Homo sapiens: one gene and its partners. The protein of the gene in region 2 binds, or shares a complex with, the protein of the main gene of each other region. Each region holds a gene or a part of one and is shown on either strand. Other genes may lie near its edges. A codon is read from its position in the direction of its gene.

Region 1 (10,559 bases), on a different chromosome or scaffold from region 2:
TAACAGCTATCCTATTTTTAAAAACAAATTTAAAAAGCTACACTTCTTCAGCTTCTGCAGCTCCAAGAGATATGTTAGCACAGCAAGCACAGCCTTGGTGGAGTCCTCCCAGTACCCTAGACAGAAGTCTGCTGAAAGGCATTCACGAATCACACACACTAAAAACCCTGGGTGACAGAAGAGCCCTGTTTGGCTTCCTGACAACTGCCCCTCCACAGAGTGGGAGATCACACAGAGGAGGTGGGGATCTGCCTTCCAGAACCTGCTGCTTGCTGAGCTGGATGGCTTCAAGTTCATTAGATGGTTCAGTCTTTTCCATCATCCCAGAAGATAGGTGGAGACCCAGGTTCATAGTGGTGAAATGAATTGCCCAGAGCCATGCAGCTAATAATGCCCTTTTTCACATTCTTTAGCGGCTCTTATTACCTTAGGAAACTCCTTAGCAGAATATCTCAGGCACCCCAGGAAAGACACCTTCTCTCAAGACTCATCCCCATCCAAGACTCTAAAGGACGCTGCACTCTCCTCATGCAGAACAGCAGGTAGTTCCTGGCACAGACATAGTACCTCACAACTCCATCAGGCACATGCCTTTCCCTCCTGTCTGCCCCCACACAATGGGGCTTATTCCTACTTGTCCCTTAAAATCCACATAAATAAGTGAAAAAAGATAGGTCCTGATAGAAACATATCATAAGGAAACAAACATGAGGGCAGATATATTTATTCAAAAGTAGTCTCTGATATATAGTTAGCTTTGACAGTAAAAAATTAGAAACAACCGAAATGTTCAAAAAAATATGGGAAATGTTTAACAAATTATAGGATTTCCCTATTTAGGGGCTACTAATACAGCCATACCTGGGTTGGTTGGTTTGTCTTCCTTTTTGGATTGCCAGCAAAAAGTCTTGACCAGATCACTGTAAATCAGTGATTCTCAACTGAGGAGGCAGGAAGAAGTGCTAAGACTCCTTCCCAAGGTATTGCAATTGGTAGGTAAAGTTTATACAACTATGATTCATGCTGTTGACATGGTGTCTGGGCAGACAGAATGTTGAGCTGGGTTTTCACAGGTTTCCATGTGGTACAGGGCACAGCTTGATACACATCAAGAAACAATGACACTATGCATTTGCTAAGACCTGTGTGAACTTTGCTTCATAAGTATCTAAAAGAGTGACCAGGGCAGTAAGTAGTTCTGCTCAAACAATGACACTATGCTGAGGTGTCATCAGTATAATAGTGTAATTACTACACATGCAAATTAATCCTTTCAAATGTGCAGCCAAAAATACTAGCACTCAATACCAGCACTTTGTTAAGGTTATGCTGTAGCAAATAAACATTCAAATTCCAAGGTTCTTTCTCACCCACATAGCTAGTCCAATGAGGATGTTCCTGCTCAGCAAGTGATTTTCCTCCATACAGTGATTCAGGTACCCAGGCTCTTTCCAATTATGACTCTTCCATCCTTAGAGCCTTGGAGTCCTGTCAGGTGGAGAGAAAGAATATGGGAAAGTCACCTCTTTACTGCCTTGGCCTGCAAGTGACACATATCACTTCCAGTCCCATTGTGTTGGTGGCTAGTCACATAGTCCTACCTAGGGGTATGAGGTGGTAGAAATATAATCCCTAGCTGAGCGGCCAAAACTCTACACAATGAAAAGAGGAACACACATTTCTGGTAGATAGCCCACCTTCTGTGCCACAGCCACAAACCCAAAAAAGTTGAGGGTAATAGGATTTTGTGGCTGTGCCACATGGAGAAGTGGTAAAATTCCCAATACTGCCTCACTAGTGGATCAATCTCTCCAGCTCCCAACATTTTGTACATTGGAACCTACTTCAGCCCTGGTAGAAGATTTGAACATTGCTTTCTCATCATTTCAGAGACCACATGGATGGGGCCTCTGCTCTCATTCCTCCAGTGGCCATTCAGTTGGCTACCCTCCTGCTAAGACACTATCCTTGCTGGGCAGCTCAGGCTTAGGCACTGGTCCCTGATGCCATCAGTTTTCTCTAGGGAAGCAGAGCTGGCTTCACTGAATGCATGTAGTTGACAAGGTATAACTACTTCCTGGAGAAAGAACTGCCTGGGACCCCTTTTCCTAGAGAGACTATAAGCATGGCTGATACTTGAAGCTTTATGGACCTGCTAGTACACAGAGTCATTAAGAAACCACATGAGGCCAGGAAGAGCAAGGTGTGCTGACCATTTTCATCACTGTATTCCCAGTACTCAGCACAATGTTTTAGAAACCCTGCAGCATCCTCCTGGAGATGCACCCACTAGGGCCTTAGAGTTCTGCTGGCAGATTGGAGAAGAGAGAAAAAAGAAGACACAGTACAGTACAGTTGAACAGTTACTTGTCAAATAAAAAGGTGAAAAGAATGATTTAAATGAATAAACATATGATCTTGATAAATATTTAGTAACATAGGAAAGAGTAAGAACAAAAGGAAAAAGTATGGGACAAAAATAGAAACAGTCATGTGTCGCTTAATGATGAGGATACGTTCTGAGAAATGTGCCCTTACACGATTTCATCCTGCAATCATCATAGAATGTACTTGTACAAACCTAGATGGCATAGTCTACTACACAGCTAGGCTGTATGGTACAGTCGAGGACTCTGAGGCTACAACCCTGAATAGCATACTGTAGGCAATTGTACTACAATGGTAAGTATTTGTGTACCTAAACATGGAAAAAGTGTAGTAAAAATATGGTATAAAAGATTTAAAATGCTATACAAATAGGACACTTACCATGAATGGAACTTGCAGGACTGGAAGTTGCTCTGGGTGAGTCAGTGAGTAGTGAGTGAATGTGAGGGCCTAGGACATTACTGTACATTACTGTAGACTTTAGAAACACTGTACACTTAAGGCTACACTATGTTTAAAACAGTTTTTCTTTTATCAATGATAAATTAACCTAGCCAGATGCAGTGGCTAATGCCTATAATCCCAACACTTTGGGAGGCCAAGATGGGTGAATCACATGAGGCCAAGAGTTCGAGACCAGCCCGGTCAACATGGTGAAACCTCATCTCTACTAAAAAAAACAAAAATTAGCCAGGCGCTGTGGGACATGCCTGTAATCCCAGGTACTCGAGTGGCTGAGGGACAAGAAGCACTTGAACCCGGGAGGCGGAGGTTGCAGTGAACAGAGATCACACTGCTATGCTCTAGCCTGGGCGACAGAGGGAGCCCCTGTCTCAAAAAACCAAAATAATAATAACAAATTAACCTTAGATTACTGTAAATTTACGTTATAAACTTGGAAATTCCTTTTTCTTTCCTTTTTCTTTTTTTTTTTTTTTTTGAAATGGAGTCTCACTCTGTCTCCAGGCTGGAGTGCACTGCCACAATCTCGGCTCACTGCAACCTCCGCCTCCCGGGTTCAAGCGATTCTCCTGCCTCAGCCTCCCAAGCAGCTGGGAGTACAGGTGCGTGCCACCACGCCCGGCTAGTTCTTTCTCTGTAAGATGGGGTTTCACCACGTTGGCCAGGATGGTCTTGACCTGTTGACCTCGTGATCCGCCCGCCTCGGCCTCCCAAAGTGCTGGGATTACAGGTGTGAGCTACCACGCCCAGCCTAACTTGTAAATTCTTTAAATGTTTGACTCTTTTGTAATAACACTTAGCTTAAAGCACACATTATACAACTGTAGAAAATATTTTCTTTCTTTATATCCTTCTTATGTAAGTTTTTTCTATTTTTAAAATTTTTATTTTTTTTTAAGTTTTTTGTTAAAAACTAAGACACACACACACAAAAAAAAAAAAAAAAACTAAGACACAAACACACGTATTAGCCTAGACCTGCACAGGGTCAGGATCATCAATATAACTGTCTTTCACTTCCACATCTGGTCCCACTGAAAGGTCTCCAGGGCAAAAACACACATCTCCTGTGATAACAATGACTTCTTCTGGAATACCCCCTGAAAGACCTGCCTGAGGCTGTTTTTTAAACTTTTTTTTAAGTTTTACTGTTTTTTTAATAAGTAGAAGGAATACACTCTAAAATAATGATGAAAAGTATAGTGTAGTAAATACATAATGCAGTAACAGTCATTTATTACCATTATCAAGTATTGCATACTACACATAATTGGTATGTGCTATATTTTTATACAACTGGCAGCACAGTAGTTTGTTTACACCAGCATCACCACAAACACATGAGTAAAGTATTGCGCTAGACAGCTACAAGGTCACTAGGCAACTGGAATTTTTTTAGCTCTATTATAATCTTATGGAACCACTGCTGAATACATGATCCATCGTTGGCTCAAACACTGTTATGCAGTGAATGACTGTACTTAATTTTATAATCAGTATGATCACAATTATGCAAATATTTGTTACATATGCATAAAAAGACTAGAAATATGAAAATGTTTATCTTTGGCTCATGTATTTATAAATCATTTTTTATACATTGATATATTTTCCAAGCCTTCTAAGAATGGAATCTTTGTACAGATTAAAAAGTTACAATAAGTGTTATTGTTGTTTTTAAATTTCTACCCAATGTTGCTTCCTGCAGAAATTATTCTGTGACCACTCCAAGAGGACTTGGAAGCCCCTCCTCAGTGTTCTCCTAGTATCCAATAGTATCCTCTACCATTCACTAAGCACACTGGATTTTAATTGTTTGCTTATCTAACGCCCAATACTTGGAACTCTTCAGAGAAAGAGACTGATTCTCTAATCCCTGAATTCCCAGGCCTACCACATACACTAAAGCACTCCTAAGGTCTGTGGACCAGATGAAGAAATCAGATGAGTAGGGGTACGCAAACCCAGGCATTCCCATTCTAAACCCAGTCGCATTGCAATCCCTGCAACAAAAGGGATCCGAGATTTCCTCCACTGGTGACTGTGACCTGGGGACTGGGAAGTACTGTATACAGGAAGATCTTGAAGAGCTGTCCCCTTGAATAGTCAGCACCAGGGTTGCACGGAAAGTAATAGCTGAAATCCAAGTTGGGTTTTCCTGGCAACAGCCAATATTAGTCAGAGGTGGCACTTGGAGGATTCCCCAGGTCTGCTCATTCCTTTAGGATCATTCATTCCTCCCAAGGCCTCCCTTGGGAACAAAGGAAAACCCCAGAGTTTGGGATTGGGCTCTTTTCCACCAACAGCTGCTAGTAGTTTGTATTTAACCCTGAGTCACAATTAAAATAAAAGAGGGCGGGCGGGGGAGGGGCGAGGAGTTGGTAAGCATCCCCTAGGAAACACTTAGGTTTTCTCTAAATTTATTCCAGAAAATTCTTCTAAAGGACTTTTCAAGGACCACAGCATACTGCCTTGGAAACTTAGTTTTTAACCTTTTTCTTTTCTTTTTTTCTTTTTTCTTTTTTTTTTTTTTTTTTGAGACAGAGTCTCACTCTGTCACCCAGGCTGGAGTGCAGTGGTGCGATCTCGGCTCACTGCAACCTCTGTCTCCCAGGTTCAAGCGATTCTCATGCCTCAGTCTCCTGGGATTACAGGCGCGCATCACCACTCCCGGCTAATTTTTGTATCAGTAGAGACAAGGTTTCACCATGTTGGCTAAGCTGGTGTTGAACTCCTGACCTGAGGTGATCCGCCCGCCTCGGCCTCCCAAAGTGTTGGGATTACAGGCGTGAGCCACCGCGCCCGGCCAGTTTTTAACACTATTAGCCACACTGAAACTGAACTATTGATCAAGTGACGCCACACAAAGGGGTAAATCCCCTGTTCAACAAAGGGTTTGTGACGCCCCTGGGTGCTGACAAGCCAAACCGCACCCTCCCTGCGGCACCTCGCGGGCCGGTGGGGCGGGAAGCCCGGCTTCTGGGGAGGTGCCGCCCCTCCACTGGCGCAGGCCGCCGAGACCCCCAGACGGACCTCCTAGGGCTAATCTGATAGTGCCTCTGAGGTCGATAGGACTCCACGTGCCACTCCCTGCAGGGTCATCCAGCAAGTAATTCCTAGACCCGTAGGTGGCCGCAGAGCCGGTTACCTCTGGTTCTGCGCCAGCGTGCCCCACCCGCAGGACGGCCGGGTTCTTTGATTTGTACACTTTCTAAAACCAAACCCGAGAGGAAGGGCAGGCTCAGGGTGGGGATGCCCTGAAATATTCGAGAGCAGGACCGTTTCTACTGAAGAGAAGTTTACAAGAACGCTCTGTCTGGGGCGGGCGAGGCCTCTGCGAGGCGGGTCCGGGAGCGAGGGCAGGGCGTGGGCCGCGCGCCCGGGGTCGGGGGAGTCGGGGGCAGGAAGAGGGGGAGGAGACAGGGCTGGGGGAGCGCCCTGCCGAGCGCCCGCCAGGCTCCTCCCGCTCCCGCGCCGCCTCCCTCTACCCACCCGCCGCACGTACTAAGGAAGGCGCACAGCCCGCCGCGCTCGCCTCTCCGCCCCGCGTCCAGCTCGCCCAGCTCGCCCAGCGTCCGCCGCGCCTCGGCCAAGGTGAGCTCCGCCCGGCCCACGCGCCCCTCCTGGGTAGTCCCCAGGCCCGGACCTGCTGCCCGGGGAAAACCCTGCACCCGGCTTCGCGGGGCGTCCGGAGCACCGCGGGGCTGGGCGGGGAGCGGCTGGTGGGGAATCCGCTGCTCAGTGCTCCGGGCCACACCCAAACGAGGCCAGCAGCGCCCCTCCCCGGCCCGGGCGCGGCCGCCCCCAGACCCACGCGGACCAGAGGAGGGGGCACTTGTTCTTTAGGAGGGGACCGTGGTATTGGTGCGCCTGAACCTCTTCCCTCCTCCCTTTATGTTTGCGTTGCTTTACTCCCACCTTTCCTACTTTCCCACTCGTCTCTCGGGTTACCGAATCCCTCCTACACGCCCCTGCCCTGGCTGGCGTGTTTCTTGGTGGGTTCCGCTCGCAGGCCGGGTCTGCATGTTCGTAGCCTGCTCCCGGCTGTACCGCCCAAGTAGGCGCGGGTAGGACGAGTAGGCAGCTGGGGCGTCCCTTCCGTAACCCTTAGTCCGTCGGCCAAACAGGCGTTTCTGGTCGGGGCTTCCTGTTGTCTGCTCGACGGAAAGGGTCTTCCTGCTGAGGGAGGGAGGTCCACTTGTTTTCTTTCTACAGCAGTTTGGCTGGGGTTTGTGGGAGAGGGCCCTGTGTGACGTGGTTTCTCTACTGAAAGGGTTCCCTTGCTGTCTTAATAAGTGGAACCAGAAAGAGATGGAGGAAGAGCAGGCTTGATGAAGGATCTTCCAATCATAGATTAATTTGGCCCGGTGCAGTGAAACAGACAGACGTGCCTTTGGTACTTGGTTCACCACCTGTGCTTTGGCCGAAGGAATGGCGCTGCCCCTAGCCGTGGACACTGCTGCCTGTCCAGCCTCAGTCCAGCTCTGCCTAAGTGAAACCAGGAGCTCTGCCTTGTTGGCTGGGGTGGAATGCAGAGCGCTCCAAGCCAGGCCAGCACAGGGGAGCCCTAAGCCAGATTCTGGGATGCATTAAGCCCACCCCGTTTTCTGCCCCCACCCAGTTCCGTCTCTGCGGGAGCTTCTGCAGGGCGTGGTTAGCACAAAGGGCTCCAGGATTCTCCCAGTGGTCTGAGGCCTGTGACTCAGCTGTGAGACCATGTGGGTGTGGCCGGTTGCAGATACTCTCGGTGGATGGTTTGGACAGAACACTCCCTGAAGGAAAAGGAGAACTGTGCCATCTCAGAGGGCATTTTCCAAGAGGAAGTGAGTCACACCTGGTCTGGCTGCCAGTCTGCAGGAGAGGTTTCTCGACTGAACTGCCGGTGAGGGCAGTAATTAGATCTGCAGGGCCTTGGCGAGACCGCTTTTCGTTATCGGCCAGTATGCGCCTGGCAGCCTGCCTCAGCCTTACTTGGGAGGTAGCTTTTCCCGCTAAGAGGTTTGCAGTTGTTGCGGATATTTTTCCCCAGAAGCTTGAGTTTCAGTCTCCAGGAATGGAGTTTTATGTTGTGCGTTTTAGGTGAGGCCAGGCTCATGGAAACACCCAGTCGGTGATCTTTGCCTCCAACATGTTTCAGCAAATTGCAAAAGATAATGCCAGGGGTTGGAGTGGGAATGAGTTCATATAACTTATTGGAAGTTTCTTCATCGGCCCTGCCCCCACAGATTCCTATCCAGTTTCTCTTTAATCATCCCTTCCAAATGGTGTATTTGTTCCTTCACAGCCAGAGGATAGTTTCTTCACTGTGGCCCTTGATCCACCATTTGGAGTTTCTTATCTAGGTTCTTACAATTTTTTTGGTCTACTGGGCATGAAGCAATTTTTGGGTCTTACCCTGCTTTCTGGGTGATGCTCTTCCTAGCTTTTCTCCGACACATCATATAGGCCCCTTTCCTCCCGTGTGCTGGCCAGCCTCCTAAGCAGCCACTCCAGTGAGGTCAGGGTGGAGCTGAGACTGTGTGCCTCCCTGCTTTCTACTGACAGTTCAAAAAATGTGACTTTTGTAGAGCACAACCCACTTGGTATACCCTTGGACACAGTCCAGTCTTTTAAAGCGTAAAGTTGAGAGAAACAATGGAATTCTTTCAGGATTATAATGTATAAATTAGCACTCAAAGTGCTGAGAAAGCTGGACTAAAATTTTAACATCTTAAGTTTCTCATTTTTCTGGGGACTCAACAAATTTAGGAATCCACATCAAAAGCAAAAAGAAAGAATGTACTTCTTTTAAACAATTTTCAGCACTTTCTATCCCTTTACTAAATAAATACCACCCATCCTACCAAAGGATTTAACTAAAAGCAGTTTTGACAGTAGCTATGTTGGCTGATTAGGCTGATGCCTAAGCATTCTTTAAGGAAAAATTGATGTAGTTGGTTAGATTGAAGGAGGTTTCTTCCAAGTTCTTTCTTCCTATTGAATTGCATCTGAAACGTTCCTTTGCTGCCCAGTTCTTTAGTGGGCAAGTTTTAGTTGGTGAGAGGTGAGAGAGACAGCCTGGATCCAGATCCATTGCTTCAACTCATTTTTTCTGAATTCCCTTCAGAGATCAAATTTAAGAATGCCTTCTGGGTTCAATTTTAAAAACTCCAAAATTTCTAAAGCAAAAGGAAGGAAACCTCAAACATATTTTAAATAACAGATGTTTGTTTTTACTGACACCCTGCCGTTTATTTTCTGGGTGGGCTGTAAGAAAACTAGGGTATGGACAAGACACAGAGGAGCAAAGCAAGTCCGACTCACTCTGCAGAAGTGTCCTCTTTGAAACTGCAGCCGGGATCTGGGCATAGGTCCAAAGCAAACATTTGAGATTTTTCAGGAGCAGACACTTTTCTGAGGAGGACTCCTGCTTGTCTGCTACTCGCAGGACAACCAAAATACATCATTATCAATTTCTTAACAATTCATCGAGCAGGCTCTATGAGGGCTGGGGCACTGGCTATTGGGACCCTGCTCAAAAAACCTGCAACCTAGTGAGGAAAGAAACAGAAACACAAATAACTAGAATTCAGGCCAAATGCTTTAATAGTATTCCATTAGCTGGTGAACTCCTCAAAGGCAAGCACCATGGAGAGCTTTGTGTGTGTGTGCATGTGTGTATGTGTGTGTGAACACCCTCATGCCTAACACCATGTCTGGGACATTCAAAGTAGGTGCTCAGGGAGGGAGAACCAAAAATGGAAAATTGAATTCCTCCTAAGGTAACTAAATTTGTGGAGTCCAGAATTGTTTTCCATAGAGAAAACTATGCAGAGAAAGATGTCTCCGCCTCCCTTCTTAAGACCTGTTGCTCAGACAAACATGTAGAGGGCATGTATAGGCATCAGATTAGAATACTTCAATAAAAGGTGAGTGGACAGCAAGGCTGTTATTATCCTGTGGAGCTCAGCAGTGAGATAGCAGCACTAGAAAAGCAAAAAGTAGAAGATGGGATGAATGAAACACGAGAAAATAGCAAGTGTTAGAAGAGAAGGAGCACAGTCATGTCATTCTGACTAGACCTGTTTAGCAGGACACATATTTTTCCTTTTGCGTATGGAATGTGCACTCCTGTGTACTCTATCTACTGTTCCGTTCATAGTTGAACACTTTTGGGGCCCCTTTCCTGGCCCTTCCCAGCTCTCACATCGTCCTCCTGAGCTCTGAGCTACAAGGCTTTCAGCCTAGTCCTGGGTAATCACACCTGCACCTCAGCTACTGCCCAAGGGATTGTGTGGTTCATTTATGCACATAACAGTTATATAGTGCTCCATGAATAAAAGCAGAATAATTTGTAGTTCTTAATCAAGAGAAGCTTAAATCTCAGGCAGACAAGTAAACAATTAAATGAAATTGAATGTTTCAGGTGCAAGAGTACGTTATTGGGGATAGAGAGGACACTGCAGCCCCTCAGCCCCAGCCCCAAGGCCCTCCTGTCAAAATGTGTCTAACCAGGATGCAGGAAGCCCACATCTGTCCAGGAATAGAGCTTGCAGAGTGGCTACGTGAGGGTGGAAATGCCAGATTGAAGTCCCTGAAGAACTTCAGTTTTGGCAGCTAGCAGTGCTGCAGACAGCCCTGCCCAGGCAAGCCCCACCCAAGAACGGAGGGCCAGGCAGGGCTGACTCAGTTGGGCAACCATTGGCTGCACTCAGACAAGAGTTACATGA
Region 2 (10,435 bases):
TTTATTCAATGCAAAATAATCCTCTCCAATTTTACTGAGATGGCTGACCATGTCCACGACCAAATCTGCCTCTAAACTGGAATTCGGTTGCTGACCCACTCCCAGCATCGGCTTTCTTGTCAGCACCAGGGAGCACAGCATTCCATCTGTAGGTATCCCTGTTGGCTTCCCCTCTTGTGAGTCTTGCAGGTCACTCACCCTCCAGACCTTTAGGCCGAGGCCTGCCAGTCTCTGGACGGCTGTGGCATAGGGTGGCAGGCACAATCTCCGGGGGCAGATGAAGGTAATCACGGAGATGGTGGATACCCTCATTGGTAAGGTACCAGTAGAAATGTCTCCAGGCAAACTGTTCCTTCATGTAGCCTCGGGACTTGAGAGACTGCATGGCCTTCATGACATGAAGGTTGGGCACATTCTTGTCTGCCAACTCTGGCTGCTTAGGCGTGTAGACATCCTTCTTGGCCACCATGGCTCCCTCCTTAAAAAGGAGTTCATAAATGGCAATCCGGTTCTTCTTAGGCATCAACATTTCGGCGGCTGTAGCGTCTGGGGCCGGGGCTGGAAAAAAAGGAGACTTTTTTTTTTTTTTGAGACGGAGTTTTTCGCTCTTGTTGCCCAGGCTGGAGTGCAGTGGCGCAATCTCGGCTCACCGCAACCTCCGCCTCCCGGGTTCAAGCGATTCTCCTGCCTCAGTCTCCCAAGCAGTTAGGACAGTATTTTTCATGAAATAAAATATTTTGAGTGAATATGAAAACACACAAAAACATAGCTGCATTTTGAATGCTTTTATCTTTATTAAGGGTCTACTGAATGTATTTTGGGTGTTTTGAATTTTTTAACTTTGAAGACTAATTCCATTTTTTAACTTTGAAGACTAATTCAAAGTTAAAAAAAATTCAAAACACCCAAAATACTTTCAATAGACACTTAATGAAGATAAAAACATTCAAAATGCAGCTATGTTTTTGTGTGTTTTCATGTTCACTCAAAATATTTTATTTCATGAAAAATACTGTCCTATTTTGAATAGGCTCTATGGCTAAGAAATACGTATTGTATTGCAGAATTAGGGTTTTTTTTCTATTGATAACAGACACTTAGCAGCTAAATATTTGTATTTTCTACAAAATTAGATGGAAAAATGCTGTTGGAAGAAACAATAGGCTGATAGGGTTTGAAATATTCATTCTCTGACATGCCAATGTATAAATGCAGTAAAATGTGCTGAGTTAAGAATAAGATGCTTACACCTCAGGAAGCATCCCAATATTCCAGTGGGTTAATATAGGAATGATCTTGACAGAGTGGGCATCTGTAGCCAAATCAGTTTTCATAATGTTTTATACATCATATCGTAACTTAGCAATCCAGCAAGACACAGTTTTGCACTTACATTCTGCTTGTTCTTTCATTTAGCACTATATTTTGGAAATCTGTCCATGTCAGAACATGTTGATCTACTCCATTCCTTTCAGCAGCTTCATTCCACTGAACACATACTCTAAAATTAATTTAATTTAGCCTCATTGATGGCCACCTAGGGTGTTTCAATCTTAAAATGCTGATATAAATGTCCTTATACATATATTGTTATGGTCACGTAGAGCTCTCTCTTCAAGATAGCTTTCTTGAAGCAACATCACTGCATCAAAGGGCATGAGTATTTTAAGTATTGATAGATACTGACAAATTGCCCTCCCACCGATAATGTCTGAGAATTCCCATTTTGCCCATTTTCACCACACTGAATACTATACATTTTAATTTTTGCCAGGTGAGTTTAAGTATGAACAAAGGCAAGGTAATGCGTTTATGGAGAAAAATCTGATAGTAACAGGTACTGGGTAAGATAATGTCAATGCAAAGAGGAAACATCCAAATGCCTGTCCCCAAGAAGCTCCTGCCTAGTTGCTGAGACCAACAAATTAAAAAATAACAATGCGAGGTGACAATTGCAAGAGGAGAGGTATATTTTTAAAATGCCAAGAGAAGTAGTCAAATCTGCCTGAAGGGCTTGGGAAAGCCTTTGCTCTGCAGTAGAAAATAATATTTACTCTGAGGCTTGATGGATGAGGCAAAGTTCACCACTGAGGAAAGCAGGAAAGGGCATTCCAGCAGGAAAACAGGATGGAGGAAGGTACAAAGCATGAATGAGCCTGGCCTGTCCAGCAGTGGCACATGGAGCGGTGAAGAGTGAAGATGTGGGGGAATGAGGCTGCCCAGGTAGGTCAGAGCCCTGCTGGGAAGAGTTTCTGGAGAGGGGTCATATAATCAGAATTATGTCTCAGAAAGAGAATTCTGGCTGTCTCAGAGAATGAACTGAGGTCAAAAATGTCTGTTACAGCTGAGAAAGAGACATTGAAGTCACTGCAGATTTTTCCCTGGAAATGCCTCCAAACAAAATAGACATTGTGGTTTGTCCATACCAAGAGTACTCTGTGTGGTTTGGGTCATGACACGTGAATTCAACAAGGATTTATTGAGGTCTTACTATGCGTTCAGCAAGGCCAGCTGCTGCAAAGACTAAAAAAGCCAATGAAATAACTATGGCTTTTTTCATCACCTACAATATACCAGACATTCTTTATACATTTTTTAATCTTTTTTTTTTTTTTTGAGACGGAGTCTCACTCTGTTGCCAGGCTGGAATGCAGTGGCATAATCCTGGCTCACTGCAACCTCCGCCTCCCAGGTTCAAGCGATTCTCCTCCCTCAGCCTTCTGAGTAGCTGAGATTACAGGCACGCGCTACCAAGCCCAGCTAATTTTTGTATTTTTAGTAGAGACAGGGTTTCACCATGTTGGCCAGGATGGTCTGAATCTCTTGACCTTGTGATCCACCCGCCTTGGCCTTCCGAAGTGCTGGGATTACAGGTGTGAGCCACCACGCCCGGCAAAAACTTCTTTTTAAAGACTCCAAGAAAGATTTAATGTGGTACTTCGAAGACGATCTCAGGGCTTCTAAGAATCTTAAGTGCATTGTCCCACTGCAGCCTGACATGTAAAGTAGAGAGAGATCTATTTAAAAAAAAAAAAATGAATGTGAATCTTGGAACATGGAATTAAACCTCAGCAAGATTTATATAAATAAAGTTTTTGAGAAAATTGTATATAAATCTTGGAGCATGGTGTGAACCTTAATAAGATATGGAAAATCTACATGGTTTTTAAGATACTTGTATTAATGAAACAACTGCCAGCTTAAACCAGAAAAAGTGCAAAATGAAAAGAAGTTTCTAGACCTTTCAGTTTCTCCTGGCATGAATGAAGCAGACTGAGAGAACTGCTCAGCTACAAATATGGGCCATTCTTTTTTTTTTTTTTTTTCTTGAGACGGAGTCTCGCTCTGTCACCCATGCTGGAGTGCAGTGGTGCGATCTCAGCTCACTGCAACCTCCCCCTCCTGGGTTCAAGCCATTCTCCTGCTGCTCAGCCTCCCGAGTAGCTGGGACTACAGGCGCCCGCCACCACGCCCAGCTTAATTTTTTGTATTTTTAGTAGAAATGAGGTTTCACCATGTTGGTCAGGCTGGTCTTGATCTCCTGACCTCATGACCTGCCCTCCTCAGCCTCCCAAAGTGCTGGGATTACAGGCGTGAGCCACCATGCCTGGCCTGGGCCATTCTTAAGAAAAGGAAATACATCTTAAAGGGAGGAGCCTAGATATCAGAGGGCAAAACCAAAAACTTGAGTAGGGCAATGGATTAAAACAAGGATCAGCAAACTACAGCCCATAGGGCAAATCCAGCCTATTGCTTGTTTTTGCACAGCCTGTGAGCCAAGAGGCCTGGCAGCTTCAGCTTTTGCTTCTAGAAGGCTGGCTGCCATGACTACCGTGGTGTAGCAAAAGAGGAGAACCTGGAGGATGTAAGACCAAGGAAGAGAAAGGCCCAGCCTGCTCTTTGTCATTCTAGCAATCCCAGCTCAGGCGCCAGACGAATGAAGCTGCTTTCAATCTTCCAACCCCAACTAAGCTACCCAACCCAACATGCTGTGGAGGAGCACCAAGCTGTCCCCACTGGGTGTCCTGCTTAAATTGCAGAATTACAAGCAAGTAAATGGTTATGTTTAACCACTAAGTTTATGGGGATAATTTGTTATACTGCAAAGGTAACTGATACGAGGGCCTTGGGTGCATTATTTAATCCCTGGACTGGGCAGGAGATTTTATTTGGACTCCAATTTCTTCATATGTAAAAATCAAGAGCCGGGTATAGTAATTCACGCCTGTAATCCTAGAACTTTGGGAGGCTAAGGTAGGCAGATCACTTGAGCCCAGAAGTTCGGGACCAGCCTGAGCAGCATAGCAAGACTTTGTCGTCTCTACAAATAATAGAAAAATTAGCCAGGCTTGGTGGCGTGGGCCTGTGGTCCCAGCTACTCAAGAGGCTGAGAGGAGAGGATTTCTTGAGCCTCCGCAGTCAAGGCTGCGGTGAGCCCTAATCATGCCATGCGTTCCAGCCTGGGTGACAGTGTGAGATCTCAACTAAAAGATATAAGAATAATAATAGTAAAAATCAAGGATAGGGCAATTTAATCTCTAGGGTCCCTCCCTGCTTTAACATTCTATTATTCAGTGAATAATTGTATTTTATCATTCTATCACATTTAGTGAGTGCCTATCATTGCTAGCTAGGCGCTAGTAGGTGTTGAGTGCAGCAGATGAAGTGTGAACAAAACAAAGTCAAGCACTTAGAGAGCAATATGGACAACAGCAGACAATCTGAGGGCTGATGTAAACATTCTCCTCAACCAGGGGGGAAAATAGAGTCTTCTGACTAATAAAAGATCTTTTATACTGGAAGAACTGGCCTCACATTCCTCAGAAATAGCAAACTATGACTTCTAATAGCTTCATTTTTATGATAACATCAGTGCACATTTCTTTAGCATGATGCAAAGACTGGTGATTGTACAAATCTATAGAAGTTAGAATTTGTGGCATGCCCAAGATGAGCACAAAACTCTTTTGGACATTTGATGGCTTTTATATATTCCACATGATTTGAATTAAATTTTATCTTCTGTAAAGGGCCTATCACAGCACGATTAGGAGTAAGAGACTGTGGAACCTATCTTGAGATACACAGAAGGGAGGCTGAATCGTGCCCAATATTACTGTCTGCCTGTGTTCCCCTAACCTTCCAAAATGTTCACACAAAGTAAGCAGATAAACATTGTTTCTGACTTTGAAGCTTTCAGGCTAAATTGAAGAGCTATAAATGTAAATCAGCAATTGTACCCAAAGTGTTGCTTGATTTTCTATTTGGCTCTGTGGTAGGGCCCATCGCGTATAATTCCTCGTGAAAGCGCTGGGTAACAGAAAGCTTTGGGCGGGTTAAAAGACCTCAGCTGTGGCCGACTTTGCCTGTGTCACTCTATGCGAGTGGGCAGAGCACTGAATGTCTGTTGGCCTTGCTATCATTCTCTGATTCCCAGGAGTGAATTGACGCTCAAATGGAAAGTAAAAATGGATGTTAAGATAAATGGGAGATTGAAACACAGAATCATCAAAACCAGGAAAAAGAGCTGCAGGAAGTAGTGTGCAAGGAGGGGTTTAAAAAACGCAGCCAGAGATCCTCGGGATTCTCAGCGTCGCTTTCCTGTTAGTTTGAGGTTCGAATACAGTATTTGCGTCGTCTCACATACAACAAATAGGTGTCTGCCTGCACGTTGCCAACGTGACTCTTGGAAGAAAAGCGAGAAGCAGCAAAACCGAGCAAGGGAGTTGGCTAAACGGCTGCAAGAAACACACACACACACACACACACACACACACACACGGAAGAAAAGCGAGAAACAGCAAAACCGAGCAAGAGAGTTGGCTAAACGGCTGCAAGAAACACACACACACACACACACACACGGAAGAAAAGTGAGAAACAGCAAAACCGAGCAAGGGAGTTGGCTAACTGGCTGCAAGAAACTCTCTATCTCACTCTCTCTCTCTCTCTCTGTGCTGCAAGAAACTCTCTCTCTCTCTCTCTCTCTCTCTCTCTCGGAAGAAAAGCGAGTAACAGCAACACCGAGCAAGGGAGTTGGCTAAACGGCTGCAAGAAACACACACACACACACACACACACCACACACGCACACACACACCCCAGCAGTCATGAAAGAAGGAGAGGAAAGTTCTTTGTTGAAACTCCGGGTTCGAAACACACACACACACACACACACACACACACACACACACACACACACACACACGAAACTCCGGGTTCAAAGCTATGGGCCCCACCCCGCTCAGGACTGCCTGCTACGAGGCCGCGCAGAGATGCCCCAGGCGCGGAGAGAAGCGGAGCACAGCCGTGCTAGGGACAGGGGCGCCACCCTGGGCGGGACTGAGGTGGGATCCTGGCTCCCGGCTTTGGCCTCCCAGCCCAGGCTCGGGGCTTCCTGGCCCTCGGAGGCCGGGGCGGGCCAGGCTTTGCAGCACAGGGCGAATCTCCCTCCCTCCCCGGGCGCCCCCCGGGAACTGGCGGCCAGAGGTTAAGCTGACATGTTTGCAGACGGTAATGGGGCGCTGGATGCCAACAGCCCCAGCTCAGGGGAGTCCAGATTTATGTTTCTTGGAACAATTCTTTCCTCCATTGCATTAACGCCAAAAAAAAAAAAAAAAAAAAAAAAACACTTAATCAAGCCCAGAGTCTACTACTAAAGTCTTGTTAATTTATTAACCCAAGCCGAGGCTGAGAGCTCGACGTGGCACTTAAGAAGTAAAATGAGGAAAGGAGGAAGAAACGGGGTCCCTGTGGGCCTCGGGGCAGCCTCGGCCGGGCTTTCTCGGAGGGCAGGGCCAGGGGCGCTGGGGCCGCTCCCGCGTGGCGCGGCTCGGGAGCGTTCCAGGGCGCGGTCCCTGCGGGCCGGCGGGCCGGGGTGAGTCACCCCTGACTTGGGGTGGGAGCGGGCCGTGTAAGGGGGAGGCGGGGCGGGGCGGGGCGGGCCTCGCCTCGCCTAGGGAGGATGTGGCGGGTATAAAAGCCCCACCCAGGCCAGCCGGCTCTGCTCAGCATTTGGGGACGCTCTCAGCTCTCGGCGCACGGCCCAGGTAAGCGGGGCGCGCCCTGCCCGCCCGCGATGGGCCGCCAGCTAGCGGGGTGTGGAGACGCTGGGAAGAAGGGTACGGCCTGGCAGGGAGGCCCCGGCAACTGGCCCCGGAGGCCGTCGGGGGCAGGGGGCTGAAGGGACGGCCGGCACTGGAGAGTCTTTGGGGAGGGGGCTCAGGGACAAGGTGTTTGGGGCAGGGGTGAGGGGCCACCGGCCCTCGGGCCGGGAGGGTGCAGGGCAGAGGTGGTGGGGGGTCGGGCTTCTCTAAGAAGCCCTAGCGGGAGCGGGGCGAGGCGGCGTGGGGAGAGGGGCGGAGGGAGGCCCCGCATTCCAGACGCGCCAGGCGCCGCCGAGGCAGGGCGTGGCCGCCCAGGGAGCCGCAGGTCCCCGGCGCAGCAGTAGCAAGTGGGCTTTCCACTGCCCTCTAGAAAGTGCCCCCCATCTGCTCTAAGTTACTGTACTCGAAACAAACGCGCGCTTGTGGAGTTGAACCGACCAGCAGGAGGGAAGTAGCGGGGGAAGACGAGAGGGGGGAGTGTGAGTAGGCACCCCTCAGCCCCCCATAAAAGAAGACATTAAAACGTCAGTTATTCCCCTTGCTCTAGGTTATCTTGTAGCATAGCAACTTCGGATTTCACTCTACCCGGAGAGTTTCCCGCTTGGTTGAACACATTGGCCTCAGGAAGGTAGTGTCCCCCATGATTCTGTGGGGAGGGTTGTCCTGTTACTCGCCATGATGTGACAATGAGTCAGGAACTGAGAGTAGAGAGAAGGGCGTGGCCCCGGGGCCTCTCCCTTCTGGCCGCTCTGTGCAGCTGGCCCCACTGCTGGTGTGGAGGGCTTGGGTTCCATCAGCCGGCTGTTGAGAAGAAGGAGGGGAACACAGATAAGTTTCCTCATCTGGGAAGGTGGCTTAAGGATGCCTATTCTTACCACCACCCAGAGTTATTGGAGATTTCAAAAAACACAGTCATTAGGTAATAAATGTGTAAAGTACACAAAAAACAAAGTGCTGTGCAAATGCAAAGTGTCATTTTTGTAGTAAGATTGCCGTTTTAAAGCTGTGGGTGTTCTGAGTGCGTGTGTAAAAGAGCAGTGGCCTCATGGGTGCACGCTGGGCCATTACCAAGAACCTTAAGTTGTTGGTGTGCAAAGGCCTGGGCCCCAGACTGTACTGATGGATTCTGTTCACACGTGTGTGCTACTGTGCCTGTCTGGAACTTGGTGACTTGGAATGCAGAATGCACTTTCCCACTGAAACAGTGTTGCAGAAGGTGCTGACGTTCCCAGGCTAGCCCTGAAAGACCTTTTTAACATGCACTGCCTGATTATGGGATTGGTGGTGGGGAGGTGGAGGGTAGTGAGGGGCAATGTGTGTGTAGGAAGACTAAATCACTGAAATATTTTTCTGGAACTTTTTTTAGCTTTAAGGTTGACACTGAGTAAATTATTTTAATTGGAAAATTATGTCTTTGCCCCTGTTCCACTTTCTTTTTTCCACCTTCCACCTCCTTAGAGACGCTCTTCTGGCTCTTCCGTGACGCATTACAACAGCCATCCAGGCCGGTCCAGTTACGCTGCATTCCTTCCTCCTTCCCATTTCGGCGGACCTGCATCCAGCTAGAGACTAGCAGATTGAATCGATATTCATTAAGTTAGGAATGGTTGGTGGTCCTAAGAGCCTCAGCAACCGAGAGGAGTCTTGTTATTTAAAAAACAACGATACTGGGCGTGGTCGTGGGCCTGTAGTCCCAGCTGCTCAAGCTAGTGGATCTCTTGAGTCCAAGGCCAATGTGAGCAACATAGCAAGACCCAGTCTCAAAAAATAAATACATAATAATAATAAAAAACCCTCGTTCACCTAAACAGATCTATAATTTATAGAATGTAAAGCAGCAATATTCAGGCAATATTAAGGAAGATTTTTGGTAAGACTGGGGCAGCAGAGGTGCCCTTGATGGGCAAGGGCCAGGAGTGTTAACACAGTCCTGCTTAGTAATTTCTTCCCTTCTTCCAAGTCTGTCGATTATCTAAAGGTCAAGGGTTTGTCCAAAAATGTCCCTTGCATCTGCAGTGGAAGGATGTGACATGTATGTGCATTTTTACAATTGGAGGTTTGTGATTTGGAGACCGTTTAGATTTTGTAATTTCCCGCAGTGCCAACTAGACTGCCTGTGGTAAATGCCCAGGAAATATTGCTGACTCACTGACTTTGATTAGGAGCTCAGTCTTGCACTGGAGTCTCAATATTTAGCATCTTGTGTCTTTGAGCTATTAAACTATGGTATTGATTGACATTAGGCTCGCAGTCATGGCCGTTAGTTTCCTGGCTAATTTCTGATTTAAGTAGTTTTCCTGGCAAAGTAGATGTGCTTCTATAATTGCTATTGATTTTGAGGGCTGTAGGCTCTTCCTACACCACTGGGCCTAGAATCTGGCACTAATGCATTGTCTGGAGCCTTTGTTCTCACCCTTCGCTTGTGCAGAGCCTGGAGCCTGCGGAGACATTTTTCATTAAAGGAGAGCGGGATTGTCACAAAAGGAGTCTCAGGCTCTAGTGGGCTGCTTTAAACAACCATTTATTCCACAAAATATTAATTACCTACTGTGTTCCACTCATAGTTATGAGCACTAGGGATACAGCAGTGAACAAAACAGACCCCCGCCAAAAATAAAATCCCTGCTCTTTAGACCTTAAATCTGGCGGAGAGAGAAGGAAAAGAGACAAAATAAGTGAATTGTTGGATTTTAAACTTTATATTTTCCCAAATTAATACTAGTTTCTAAACTTGGTGGGAGTTCATTTCCCCTTTAATCCAGCTGTTCCACAGACCTAAACTTCACATTTTACCTACCTCGGGGAAGTTTTGCTTAAAATTATGGTGTCTTAAGCTGCCTTCCAGATTCAATTGTGAGAATTAAATAGAAATGGAATGTTCCTCTTTTTTTTCACATGAGAATCCTCTTCACTTGCCCTGGTGCCACACCCTATTCTAGTTGTAGGCCACACCAGAGGAAATTCCAGTCCTTCAAAAAAATTCTTTCCACCCATTCACTGCCTGGTATCTTTTTTCTTCTGCTGTTGCCAGAGGCAGTCCTCATCTACTTTCTCCAGGGACAGGTCAGCAGTAGGGGTCAGGAGATGCCCATATTTGTCCTTCTGGGTGGTTCTACCAGATGACTTCCAAATCTCCCTTCTAGGGTACACCCTGAAGCTGTTTTTTTTTTTCTTTTTTTTTTCTTTTGAGATGGAGCCTGGCTCTGTCACCCAGCCTGGAGTGTAGTCGCACGATCTCTCCTCACTGTAGCCTCCGCCTCCCAGGTTCAAGTGATTCTCCAGCCTCACCCTCCCGAGTAGCTGGGATTACAGGTGCCTACCACCATGCC
Region 3 (10,329 bases), on a different chromosome or scaffold from region 2:
TGCGTCTAAATATTTATACGAAAAATGAATGCCTGCTAGGCCTGCCACTCACTATTACGTGACCCTGGGCAAGTTACCCATCTCTCTCTCTCTTTTTTTTTTTTTGAGACAGTGTCTTGCTCTGTTGCCCAGGCTGGAGTGCAGTGGCACGATCTCAGCTCACTGCAACCTTCGTCTCCTGGGTTCAAGCGATTCTCCTGCCTCAGCCTCCCGAGTAGCTGGGATTACAGGTACGTGCCAATATGCCCAGCTAATTTTTGTATTTTTAGTAGAGATGGGGTTTCACCATGTTGCCAGGCTGGTCTCGAACTCCTGACCTCAGGTGATCTGCTCGCCTTGGCCTCCCAAATTGCTGGTATTATAGGCGTGAGCCACTGCGCCCGGCCTCACCCATCTCTTGATTAACATTTATCAAGCCCTTGCCATGTGCTGGGCACTATTTACTCTATGAACTTTATATGTATTAGCTTATTTAAACCCCGCACAAACCTATGAGGTAGTTACTATTATCACCCTCCATCACTGACAGGTGAGTAAAATGAAGCCCCGAGAGCAGAGGTAGGCTGCTTAAGGGAGGTGGCTGGGGGCAGAGCTGGGATATCATAGGTGGGAATAATTAAGCTCGACCTAGAGCTGAATTAATTGCTGGTGCACTCTGGCCCCCCCTTCTGCTGCGTGACTGTCTCTTGTTCTCTGCCCCCTGCTCCCCATACTTCCATTAAAAAGCCCATATAAAACAGGGCTATGTAGCCCATTATAAAACAGGGCTAATCACAGCTCCTCTTTTCCTTCCCTCCTCTATTGCTCACTCCCCTCCTCAACAGGGCTGAGTCTCCAAGGAGAGGACGGCACAGGCAAGGCTTGGGTGCTGGGGGCCGAGGGCGAGGTCGAAGGTGTCACTGGCGCTCTGGCTGCCTGCACGGGCAGGAAGGCTTCTTTGCCGGCCTGGGAGTCAATCTCCTTCCTCTTTTCCCTCTCACGCTCTTCTAGGTTTTGGGTTCTCTTCCTATAAAACAGGGAGGAGTTTCTCAGGCTCTGGTGTGAGGGAGAGAATAGAGAAGTTACATGAAAGTATGTCTGTTTCTGGTAATATGGTGGTCTGTGCCCACTTCAGCTTAAAAACAACAACAAATGCTGCATAGAATTAAATCTTTTCAAAGCATTGAAGAGACCACAAGGCAGTAAGAAATGAGTAGGCCAAAATCTAAGTCAAAGCAGAATCTGTACTGGGGCCCCCCGTGCCCTGAGGTCATTGGCCAAGCCAAGCCGAACCTGAGCTTTGATCCTGATGGTTTGGGGAGTGAGGAAGACAGAAGTGGAAGCCCAGTTCTCACCCCAAGAGGGGACACAAATGGATGACCCTCCCATGATGCTGAGACCCCAAAAGGCTACACACTCAAGCTAAAAGCCAGAGGAAATCCCATCCTGCCACCCACAAGACTTCAAGGAAAGTTGTTTTGGTGCTGAGCAGAGCAGGGGAAGAAGGAAAACAGCCCTTAAGGAGCTCCAGCCACTGGCCAGCCTTCATGTGACTCTAGCCCAAATTCATTCCCATCACCTGGGGTGGAAGGGCCAGAAATCTCAAGCTTAGACTCTGGAAGTGCCCCTGGGAGGAACACACCTCCTTCCTGTGCCTCAAAGACATCCCACCTGATGATTTCCCCCCTGGGAAGCAAGCAGTTCACAGCCAAAAGCTGGGATCTGGTCAGGCAAGTTCAGACTTCTCGTCTGTAAAGGGGAGGCTTAGCCACGTGCTCTCCAAGTTCTACCCGGAATAGAGATTTGTAGGGGTGCAACCTGAGCGAGGCAGAAGTGTGTCCCCACTTGGTATTCTGGGGGCCTCTGCAGAGTGAAGAGATGGGGCTGTGATGTGATGGATAAGCCAGACTGTCTCCTCCAACTGAGCTGGAAGGACTTGGCAGGAGACTGTCCCCTGTTCCCAACTCTGGGGGAGGGCAGATGGGGAATGAAAGGGGAGTGGTGTCTGAGCCCAGACTGGCCTTTGATGTGTGCGTGGATAGGTGGGCAGGTGGGGCCTGTAATGGGTCTGCTGAGGGATCCCTGAGGGCATCCTCAGTGTTGACCTACTTGTGTCCCCCATAATTGCTTCCTTCCTTTCTTGGGAGGCTACAAATAGTGACGCCCTGTCTCTAAGCTCCTACAGCTGAAACGCCAGCACCAGTGGTGAGTGCCAGCTGCTTGGGTCCTGCCCTGGGTTGAGTGTCAGGGCAGTTTGGGGACCCCCAGTAGCCAGCCTGACTCCTGACCCAGGGTCTGGCATTGGAAGCAGAGAGATGACCACAGGCGGGCCTGACACGGGGAGGGAAGTCAGATATAGTGGACGCAGAGGTTTCCTTACACAGTGAGGGGCTGTTGGGGAAGTTTGGGCAGGGAGGTGTGTAGAGCTAAGGTCTGCCTTGGGGTGGGAGCACTGGGCTCAAGGCTCTGGTCTTCCCCTTGATCAGGCCCCTCACCTGCTCCTTGCCTCCTTGCTTCACCTCTGAGTCTCCTCATTTCTGAGGATCATGGCCCTTTCCTCTCCTGGGAACCTGGACACCTTGCTCTAATCCTGGGGTGTTTACAATGAATTAAATCCTGGCAGTGCTTGGCACTCCCCACTCCCCTTCCCCTACTTTCCTGCCAGCCACAACCATGCCAGCCATTTGCTCCCAGCAGGGGGCCCAGCAGTGGGCAAATCTTCAGGGAGAGTCTTGGCCCTGGCCGCCCTGTGCTGCAGGACTCTTGTCCCGTGGGGGAATCAGGAGTGAGTCACTGGGCTAGCATGGAAAAAACTCTTGCCTTCCTGGCTGCCTTCGGGTTTTCCCAGGCTGGAGGCATCATCCCAGAAGGGCGGTGGAAGGGGACAGTGGAAGTGGGGGGAGGTGAGCAATTCCAGGAAGGGCTTCCCCTCCAATAGAACAGAGTATCCCTATACAGAACCTCCCTGCTCAAAACCCCCAGGGGTCGGGAGGGTAACCTCAGGGGAGGCCAGTCTCAGATTGGTAAACACCCGAACTGGTCAACTCTCAAGAGACCATCTGGTTCAGGTTCCTGACTGGGCCAGCGAGGTGAGATGAACCCCAACTTACAGATCAGGCCCCGCCCCTGAGACCCAGAGAGACAAATGGCTCACCAAGGTTGCACAGCTGGCGACAGGCAGAGAGGATCCCACAAGTTTTTCTTCTGGGTGCAGCTTCCTCGAGTTCAGGGCAGGAGGCAGGGTGAGGGCAGTGGTGGTGAGGCTGTGGGGGCGCCTCTCAGACCTGCCCCTCCCTGCTAAGGCCTAGCTTCTCCAAGGGCTGAGGGCAGAGAAGCACAGGGCCAGGCTCTCCTTGTGCAAGTTCCTGCAGGGAGGGAGGCTTCTAGGGCATCTCATGGGCTGGGGCAGACTGGGACCGAGCCATCCCTGGGTGTTGGGGATAAGAAGAGGTGGCAGATAATCTGAGAGTGCTTAAGGAGCCCCACGGTGGGGTGTGTGGGTGGTGGGGTAGGATGCTGTCTCTCTGAGGAGTTTACAGCGATGTTGGGGCAATGAGACCTCTACATGGGGAAATAACAACAGGACAGCAGGGGGATAAATTAGGAGGGGCTGGTGTGGTCTGGGAGGGCTACTCAGAGGAGGGGGAGACTGCGGGGCCTGAAGCCTGATGGAGGTTAAGATGGGTCTGGGAACAGTCTCTGAGAAACACAGAGGGCAGAGGTGAGCTGGGGGGCTGGCCTGGAACTCTGCTGTGAGCCACACCCTTGTTCTGTGACAGTGAGGATGGCCAGGCCTCTGGAGCAGGCGGTAGCTGCCATCGTGTGCACCTTCCAGGAATACGCAGGGCGCTGTGGGGACAAATACAAGCTCTGCCAGGCGGAGCTCAAGGAGCTGCTGCAGAAGGAGCTGGCCACCTGGACCCCGGTGAGCAGTCAGAGTGTCCGTCCCCTCCTCCTCCGGGGGGAGGCACTGCCTAGACTCTGCAAAGAGAGACCTGGGGACAACAAGCATGAGCACAGGACAGCAAGGGAGGGGGCTGGATTGTGAGGAGGGAGTGGGAGGGGGAGAACTGACACAGCAGAAACCTCAGCTTCCTCATCTGTAAAATGGGATGACAATCATCCCTGCTGCCTTGCAGAGCTGTTGAGAGGACTGAGTGAGAGCACCATGAAGAATGCCTAACACTTGGTAGGCACTCAGTAGCAAATAGTAGGTGCTCGATTAATAATCTGAGAGGACAGATTTGGGAGGGGATTGCAACGAGTGCATTATCAGAGCAGGGAGGTTGAAGTCGGCCCTCAGAAGGGTGTAGTTTGGGGTGGGGTGGGTCCACTTGGGAGAGGAAGGAGGGAGGTGGCGTGTGAGGCTGTTCTGCCCTCCTCATCCTACTCCCTTACCTCTCCCAACCCTTCCCTTGCACAGACTGAGTTTCGGGAATGTGACTACAACAAATTCATGAGTGTTCTGGACACCAACAAGGACTGCGAGGTGGACTTTGTGGAGTATGTGCGCTCACTTGCCTGCCTCTGTCTCTACTGCCACGAGTACTTCAAGGACTGCCCCTCAGAGCCCCCCTGCTCCCAGTAGCCTCTGCTCCAGGGGGTGCGCTGGCTGTCGGGGGCTGGGCATGTCTCCCACACCCCCTCCTACCCTCTCTCCTGTACCCCTTTCAATCTGGACTTGCCCAGGTCTTCTGCGATCAGTTAACCCATTTTACCTAGGAGGCCCAGAGATGTGAGGGCTCCTTCCTCAGGATGCCCAGCGAATGAGGGGTAGAGCCACTCTGGGGCCCAGCCTGCCTGCCGCACCCCTGTGGCCTCCCTTGTGGATGGGAGGAGGCGGGATCTGCTCTGAGGCCCTCGAGGCTCAGCAGAGCGTGCACCAATGAGACCACGATGGGAAAGGGCCTATTTAACTCCTAATAAAAAACTGGCATCAGCTTGGTTTTGTTTGGTTCTTCTCTGAGGACGCGTCTCCTGAGCTCTTTGCTCCTCTCTGGCCTTTTCCACTGCGGGAAGGCAGCTGAGGGCAGGGGCAGGGTGCTCCCTGAGGGAAGTTGCAGACCCTGCAGAAATGCAGTGGCCTCCAGGGTCCAGCAGGAGGGCGTGGGGACAAAACAAGGACCCCTGTCCTCCCTTCCTCTCTCTCTTTCTTTGGGATCTTTGAGAGAGGACTGCCTGAGTTTCCCCTGGGACTCAGTGCTCATGGTTGGAGGAGGGTGGGGCCGTGGGTGCAGTGGGGGTGTTTGTTCCCTGCCTCGGGCTGTGGGAGCCCAGAGAGCAGCACTAATGGGATTAGGGTGTCTGAGGTGTTTCTCCCAGCCAGGAAGGGGTGCTCTGTATGGAGGGGTAAGGGAATAACTTGAGCTAGCCCCTATCCCTGAAGCCGCAGCCCCCTGAGGGCCTTAACCCCCTACTTCTAACCCTCACTGGGTTTGTAGCCCACCCTGAGAGGTTGACCCGAATTATAACTCCCCTATTTCATGCCATTTCACCTCTAACTCTCCACCCCAACCTGGATTCTTCATTCCTGACACTCATCCCAACTTTAAATGGCCCCTCCTGATACCCTCTCCGAACCTGAGATCTATCCGTGAGCCCCCACGCCTCACTGCCACTCCACTCCATCACTACCTCACCCAGGACCTTTCCCACTGACGTTCCTGAGGTGGTCCCAGAGCCTCCTTTGGGTGTGAGCCTGTTCCCCTCCAGATCCCCCCGCCCCGACCCTGAGCCTTACTTGGCATGGCAGACAGTACCGGGCATGGGGATCCCCACCCCAGTTTTTGTTTCTGAATCTTTATTTTTTTAAGAGACAAGGTCCTCTGTGTTGCTCAGGCTGGAGAGCAGTGGCTTGAGCATAGCCAACTGCAGTCTCGAACTCCTGGGCTCAAATGATCCTCCTGTCTCAGCTTCCTGACTAGCTGGGACTACAGGCTACAGCCATGCTGCCCAGCTAATTAAAAAAAAAAATTGTTTTTCCTTTTTATAGAGACAGAAGTCTCTCTATGTTGCCTAGGCTGGTCTTGAACTCCTGGCCTCAGGCGATCCTCCCATCTCCCCCCTAGCTTTTGTGTCACCACATTTCCAGGGCAATCTCCCACCTGTCACCCACCACCCCCTGCATCTCCTTTCCTAGGTCCCCATGGGACTACTCCCTGTCCCCCATGCTCCAGGCACAGGCTGCCCCTTCCTCCACCTCTCTAAAACTCAGGCTGAGCTATGTACACTGGGTGGTGCCCATCTCATCCAGTCCCCTGCTAGTAACCGCTAGGGCTTACCCGTTACCCACGGGTGCCCACCTGGGAACAGGAGGCTTGGTTCCACGGCTGGGCTGGTGGAGGGTGCTGTGGCACTTACCGCATCAGCCCACAGCAGGAAGGCAGTATCCGCTCTCCCCTGTCCCCTGCTATGGGCAGGGCCTGGCTGGGGTATAAATAGGTCAGACCTCTGGGCCGTCCCCATTCTTCCCCTCTCTACAACCCTCTCTCCTCAGCGCTTCTTCTTTCTTGGTTTGGTGAGTTGTGTTGGCCTGACTGGCATGCAAGGGGTGTCAGAGGCCAGGGCTGGGGAAGGAGAAGGGGAGGCTGGTGGGGGCCAGATGTGCTAAAGAGATCCAGATGTGAGATTCTGATGTGGAACTCTGGGTGGATTGTGTGCGTGGGTGTGCATGGCACACACACACATGCACGTAAGACGGAGGAAAAAACAAACAGAAAAGTGAGCAAGTGACTGAATTTGAGCTCTCCAGGTGCTTCTGAGATGTGGGCTTGCACACGCTGTTGCTATAGTACGTGTTGGTATGTATGTGCCTGTGGGTATCTGCACTGGCTCATGTTTGCTGGGTTGCGCACTCGGGAGCAGGAAGCAAAGGAAAGGCAGAAGGCAACTGTGGGCCTTTGTCTGGTGGTGTGCCCCATGAGCCTCTGCCCTGCACGCAGCAGCCCAGCTCGAGAAGGTGCATGGCCTCTGCAGCTTCTCTTCCAACCCTTGCCTCTGCCACCTCACTTTGCCCCTCCCCATGCTGAGAGCTAAGCGGCTGTGCTGGTTTTTTCCACTGCAGGCCCCTGGGCAGGCCTCCAGCAGCCACACCCAGTTCTGGGAGGGAAAAGAATGGCAAGGGCGGGGCCTTTGTGGCTGAGCTGTGGGAGTGGATAGACTGAGTGAGGGGTGGAAAAAATGCTGTTGTTGAGGCAAGGCCTGGGAGGCCCTGGGAGTTTGCTGCCCGAATCTCCAGAGCTTGCGCAGCGGATCTTGCAAATGTTCACTGCCCAGAGCATGTGTTCCCCACTGTGCACACCCTCCCAGCCAGGTGCGGGGGCCCACTGCTCTGGGCTCCCCCAGGGAGGGAGCAGAGTCTCGCCAAGTGCTCCTGGAGGGATGGGAGTGGAGCCTGGCATTCTGAACACATCTCTGAGGGGTGGGATTAATAAGACGGTCTCTGTGCCTCCTGCTCCCAGATCCTGACTGCTGTCATGGCGTGCCCTCTGGAGAAGGCCCTGGATGTGATGGTGTCCACCTTCCACAAGTACTCGGGCAAAGAGGGTGACAAGTTCAAGCTCAACAAGTCAGAACTAAAGGAGCTGCTGACCCGGGAGCTGCCCAGCTTCTTGGGGGTGAGTGGGTAGTGCCTGAGTGAGTCCCCACGTGGGGCATTTCCCACAGAGGAGGGCAGCAGTCTTGCTCTAGAGCATTAGCTACAGAGGGCATCTATCAGTGGGGTGGCTGCCTGGGGTGGAAACACATTGAACACCACCACTCACTGCCTGGCCCCATGCTGAAAGAGGGCTGAGAATGAATGGGTCAGACACTGCCAGGTGCTTTGCACAACTTAACTGAAGGGAAGACTAAGCTCAGAGTGCTAAGTAACTTCCCAAGGTGGTCAGTGTACACAACTGCCATCCGGACCGGGACTGTCTGACTCTTGCCATCACTCCAACAGTGGACACTGTTTGAGTTTCTATTTGGCTTGTAGATGTGAAGACACAGATGTGGAGATGATCACAGGCCTGCAGACGTTCCCTTCAAACAATAACAATGTATATTTGTATCAAACATAACACAGTTTATATATTGTTTTCATGACTATTACTACCTCATGGGATTATTAGAACAACCTTGGGTGAAAATGTAGTGGTCCCGTCATTTTTCCATTGCACCAGGTACTCAGACTTCCTTATCCAAGGAGCACCTTCTCCACCCTAGCTTAGCCTTGAGGGTTGGAGTTCCAAACTGGACCTCCCAAAGGAGCCTCCCTGAACTCTGGTCTGGGAGTAGAAACTGGGTCTGGTCCTGGCTCCACCCACTGGGCTTCTGTTTTCTATCTGTAGCCTCTTCTCCCTCCAGAAAAGGACAGATGAAGCTGCTTTCCAGAAGCTGATGAGCAACTTGGACAGCAACAGGGACAACGAGGTGGACTTCCAAGAGTACTGTGTCTTCCTGTCCTGCATCGCCATGATGTGTAACGAATTCTTTGAAGGCTTCCCAGATAAGCAGCCCAGGAAGAAATGAAAACTCCTCTGATGTGGTTGGGGGGTCTGCCAGCTGGGGCCCTCCCTGTCGCCAGTGGGCACTTTTTTTTTTCCACCCTGGCTCCTTCAGACACGTGCTTGATGCTGAGCAAGTTCAATAAAGATTCTTGGAAGTTTTGAGGCTGATGGTTTGAGAGACTCTGGGGGCGTGGGTTGGGGACTGAGGGATATGTTGTGGGGTGGTGGTGGGGAGAGCTGGGAGTTGAGCTGAAGTTTTATGGACAGCAGACCAGTGAAGTTAGGGGAGGGATGCAGGGTGACTAACAGTGTGTGTGCACAGGCAATAGAGTTCACTCGGTGTGGTCAAAGCCGAGAAGGGGACCCCTCACCACCCCCCTGCCAAGGTTTGGAAGGTCCCAGCTGTGGGATCTCAGCCAGCCCACTTACCCCTCCCACCTCTCTCCAACCTTGCCTCTGGCAGGATCTTGAACCGAGGCTGGAATTGAAGGTCATATCTGTTCCTGGTTGGGGTCTGGAATGGAGTTTGGGTGTCCTGGGAGTAAGTCGGAGGGAAAAGAATAAGGCTGAGTTGCAGGGAGGAAGTATTTAGGCGAGAGTGGGATGGGGAGGAGGGCTGGCACTCAGTGCTGACGTTGACAGTCCAGGCCCTGTCCTGCCACCCACTTCCAGATCATTGGCTTCAAACCACAGGGATGGATTAATCCTTTCCTGTGCGTGGTAGGATCAGGGAGGGCAATGTGGAGGGAGACCCGCTGTTTGCAGCAGCATGAGAATATAGGCATTCTCGAATCCACCGTCTCTGCCATAAAGGTCCCTGGATGAGATCTGTTATCAGTCAGGAATCAAGCTCCTTCAGAGAAGGACAGGGGACCTCAGAAGAGATGAGTGGGGGTCAGTGGCTGGAGTGGGAGTGAGGCAAATGGTGGGAAGGTGACCATAGTTTTGGAGACAAAATTCCACATATATGATCTGACAAATGAAATTGAGATTATTTTCCCCCCAGAAAATATAAGGCATGATATTGCTTCCCCTTAGGTAGGTTCAAGGCCAGTGGCTCCAGGGTGCAGTGGTGGGTTGAGGTTAGACTTCAAGGCCATGTCTGGGTGACTCAGGGATCTTTTAGGAAGAGGTGCATGGAGGTCAGGTGCAGAGGCTGGAGGGCTTTGTCCCACTGACCTCCTCTTGAGGGTCCTCTTTCCTCTCATCACATGGGGCTTTTCTCTCAGGTTTCAGAGGAGTGGGGCAGGTGACTCAGATGTTCCCGCAGGGTTTGAATACAGAGACTTGGGAGGAATTTCAGTTCAGGAGAAAGTCTGCTGCCTTCCGCTGCCCTCTCCATCCACCCTCCCTGGGAGCGCCCTCCCTGGGGCCTCCACCCAGGTCACGCTCTCCTTCAGAGATGCCTACTGCATAGCAACCAATCCCTGCTGCCTCTCCAATCTTGCCAGCTGGGGGTGGGGTGGAGTGGGGAGCAGTGGGGAGGCCCCCCAGGCTGGGGTGGGACTGCAGCAGTGATAGGTACTACACCCTGAGCCCAGGTCTGTTCTTGGACTGGTGGTAGAAGTATGTTGTTCTACTGTGGTAGAACGATGTCTGAGTGTCTCCTGGGATACAGGAAACTCTCCCTGGCCCCTACTTCCTCCTTGACTGCAGCCTGAACCTGAACCCCCCTCCCCAATCCACAACCTCTACCCCAGTGCTGGGCCTTAGCCCTTCGCTGGACACCTTCCCTATTCCTGATTCTCAGTCCTCCATGCCAAGAGTCTCCGACGAGCCTTTCCTGTGAAGAGCAGTGAGGCCTAGAAGAAATCGTTCATTTAAAAGCCCTTTAAAAACCTCTGGGCCCATATTAGCTCAT

What was found.
Region 1: the proteins of ANXA2 (region 2) and S100A10 are in contact, whole or in part, in a crystal structure (PDB 4FTG), measured with the Homo sapiens proteins. Residues at the interface, in NP_001002857.1 of Homo sapiens: Val4, Glu6, Ile7, Leu8, Lys10, Leu11, Ser12, Leu13; in NP_002957.1 of Homo sapiens: Phe39, Gly41, Phe42, Asn45, Gln46, Ala51, Lys54, Ile55, Leu79, Ala82, Cys83, Tyr86, Phe87, Met91.
Region 3: the proteins of ANXA2 (region 2) and S100A4 are in contact, whole or in part, in a crystal structure (PDB 5LPU), measured with the Homo sapiens proteins. Residues at the interface, in NP_001002857.1 of Homo sapiens: Leu13, Glu14, Pro21, Ser22, Ala23, Tyr24, Ser26, Val27, Lys28, Tyr30, Thr31, Asn32, Phe33, Glu36, Arg37, Leu40, Thr44, Gln69, Asp70, Phe73, Arg77, Arg78; in NP_002952.1 of Homo sapiens: Lys35 (codon at 7,557), Leu38 (codon at 7,566), Pro43 (codon at 7,581), Ser44 (codon at 7,584), Phe45 (codon at 7,587), Leu46 (codon at 7,590), Gly47 (codon at 7,593), Lys48 (codon at 8,326), Arg49 (codon at 8,329), Thr50 (codon at 8,332), Asp51 (codon at 8,335), Ala54 (codon at 8,344), Phe55 (codon at 8,347), Lys57 (codon at 8,353), Leu58 (codon at 8,356), Asn61 (codon at 8,365), Leu62 (codon at 8,368), Gln73 (codon at 8,401), Phe78 (codon at 8,416), Cys81 (codon at 8,425), Ile82 (codon at 8,428), Met84 (codon at 8,434), Met85 (codon at 8,437), Glu88 (codon at 8,446), Phe89 (codon at 8,449), Phe93 (codon at 8,461).

The regions. Positions count from the first base shown.
Region 1 is NC_000001.11:151,989,637-152,000,195, reverse strand, and holds the start of S100A10 (protein S100-A10), read left to right. Parts: upstream 1-6,336; 5' UTR 6,337-6,444; intron 6,445-10,559. UniProt on the Homo sapiens protein: Because S100A10 induces the dimerization of ANXA2/p36, it may function as a regulator of protein phosphorylation in that the ANXA2 monomer is the preferred target (in vitro) of tyrosine-specific kinase.
Region 2 is NC_000015.10:60,394,557-60,404,991, reverse strand, and holds the start of ANXA2 (annexin A2), read left to right. Parts: upstream 1-7,005; 5' UTR 7,006-7,049; exon of another isoform or gene 7,050-7,078; coding exon of another isoform or gene 7,079-7,121; intron 7,122-7,653; exon of another isoform or gene 7,654-7,734; intron 7,735-8,564; exon of another isoform or gene 8,565-10,435. UniProt on the Homo sapiens protein: Calcium-regulated membrane-binding protein whose affinity for calcium is greatly enhanced by anionic phospholipids. It binds two calcium ions with high affinity. May be involved in heat-stress response.
Region 3 is NC_000001.11:153,541,920-153,552,248, reverse strand, and holds S100A4 (protein S100-A4), read left to right. Parts: upstream 1-6,442; 5' UTR 6,443-6,496; exon of another isoform or gene 6,497-6,507; intron 6,508-6,730; exon of another isoform or gene 6,731-6,779; intron 6,780-7,439; 5' UTR 7,440-7,454; coding exon 7,455-7,595; intron 7,596-8,325; coding exon 8,326-8,490; 3' UTR 8,491-8,628; downstream 8,629-10,329. Other genes in the region: S100A3 (protein S100-A3), read left to right, coding at 3,764-3,904, 4,403-4,567; S100A5 (protein S100-A5), read left to right, coding at 8,988-9,009. UniProt on the Homo sapiens protein: Calcium-binding protein that plays a role in various cellular processes including motility, angiogenesis, cell differentiation, apoptosis, and autophagy.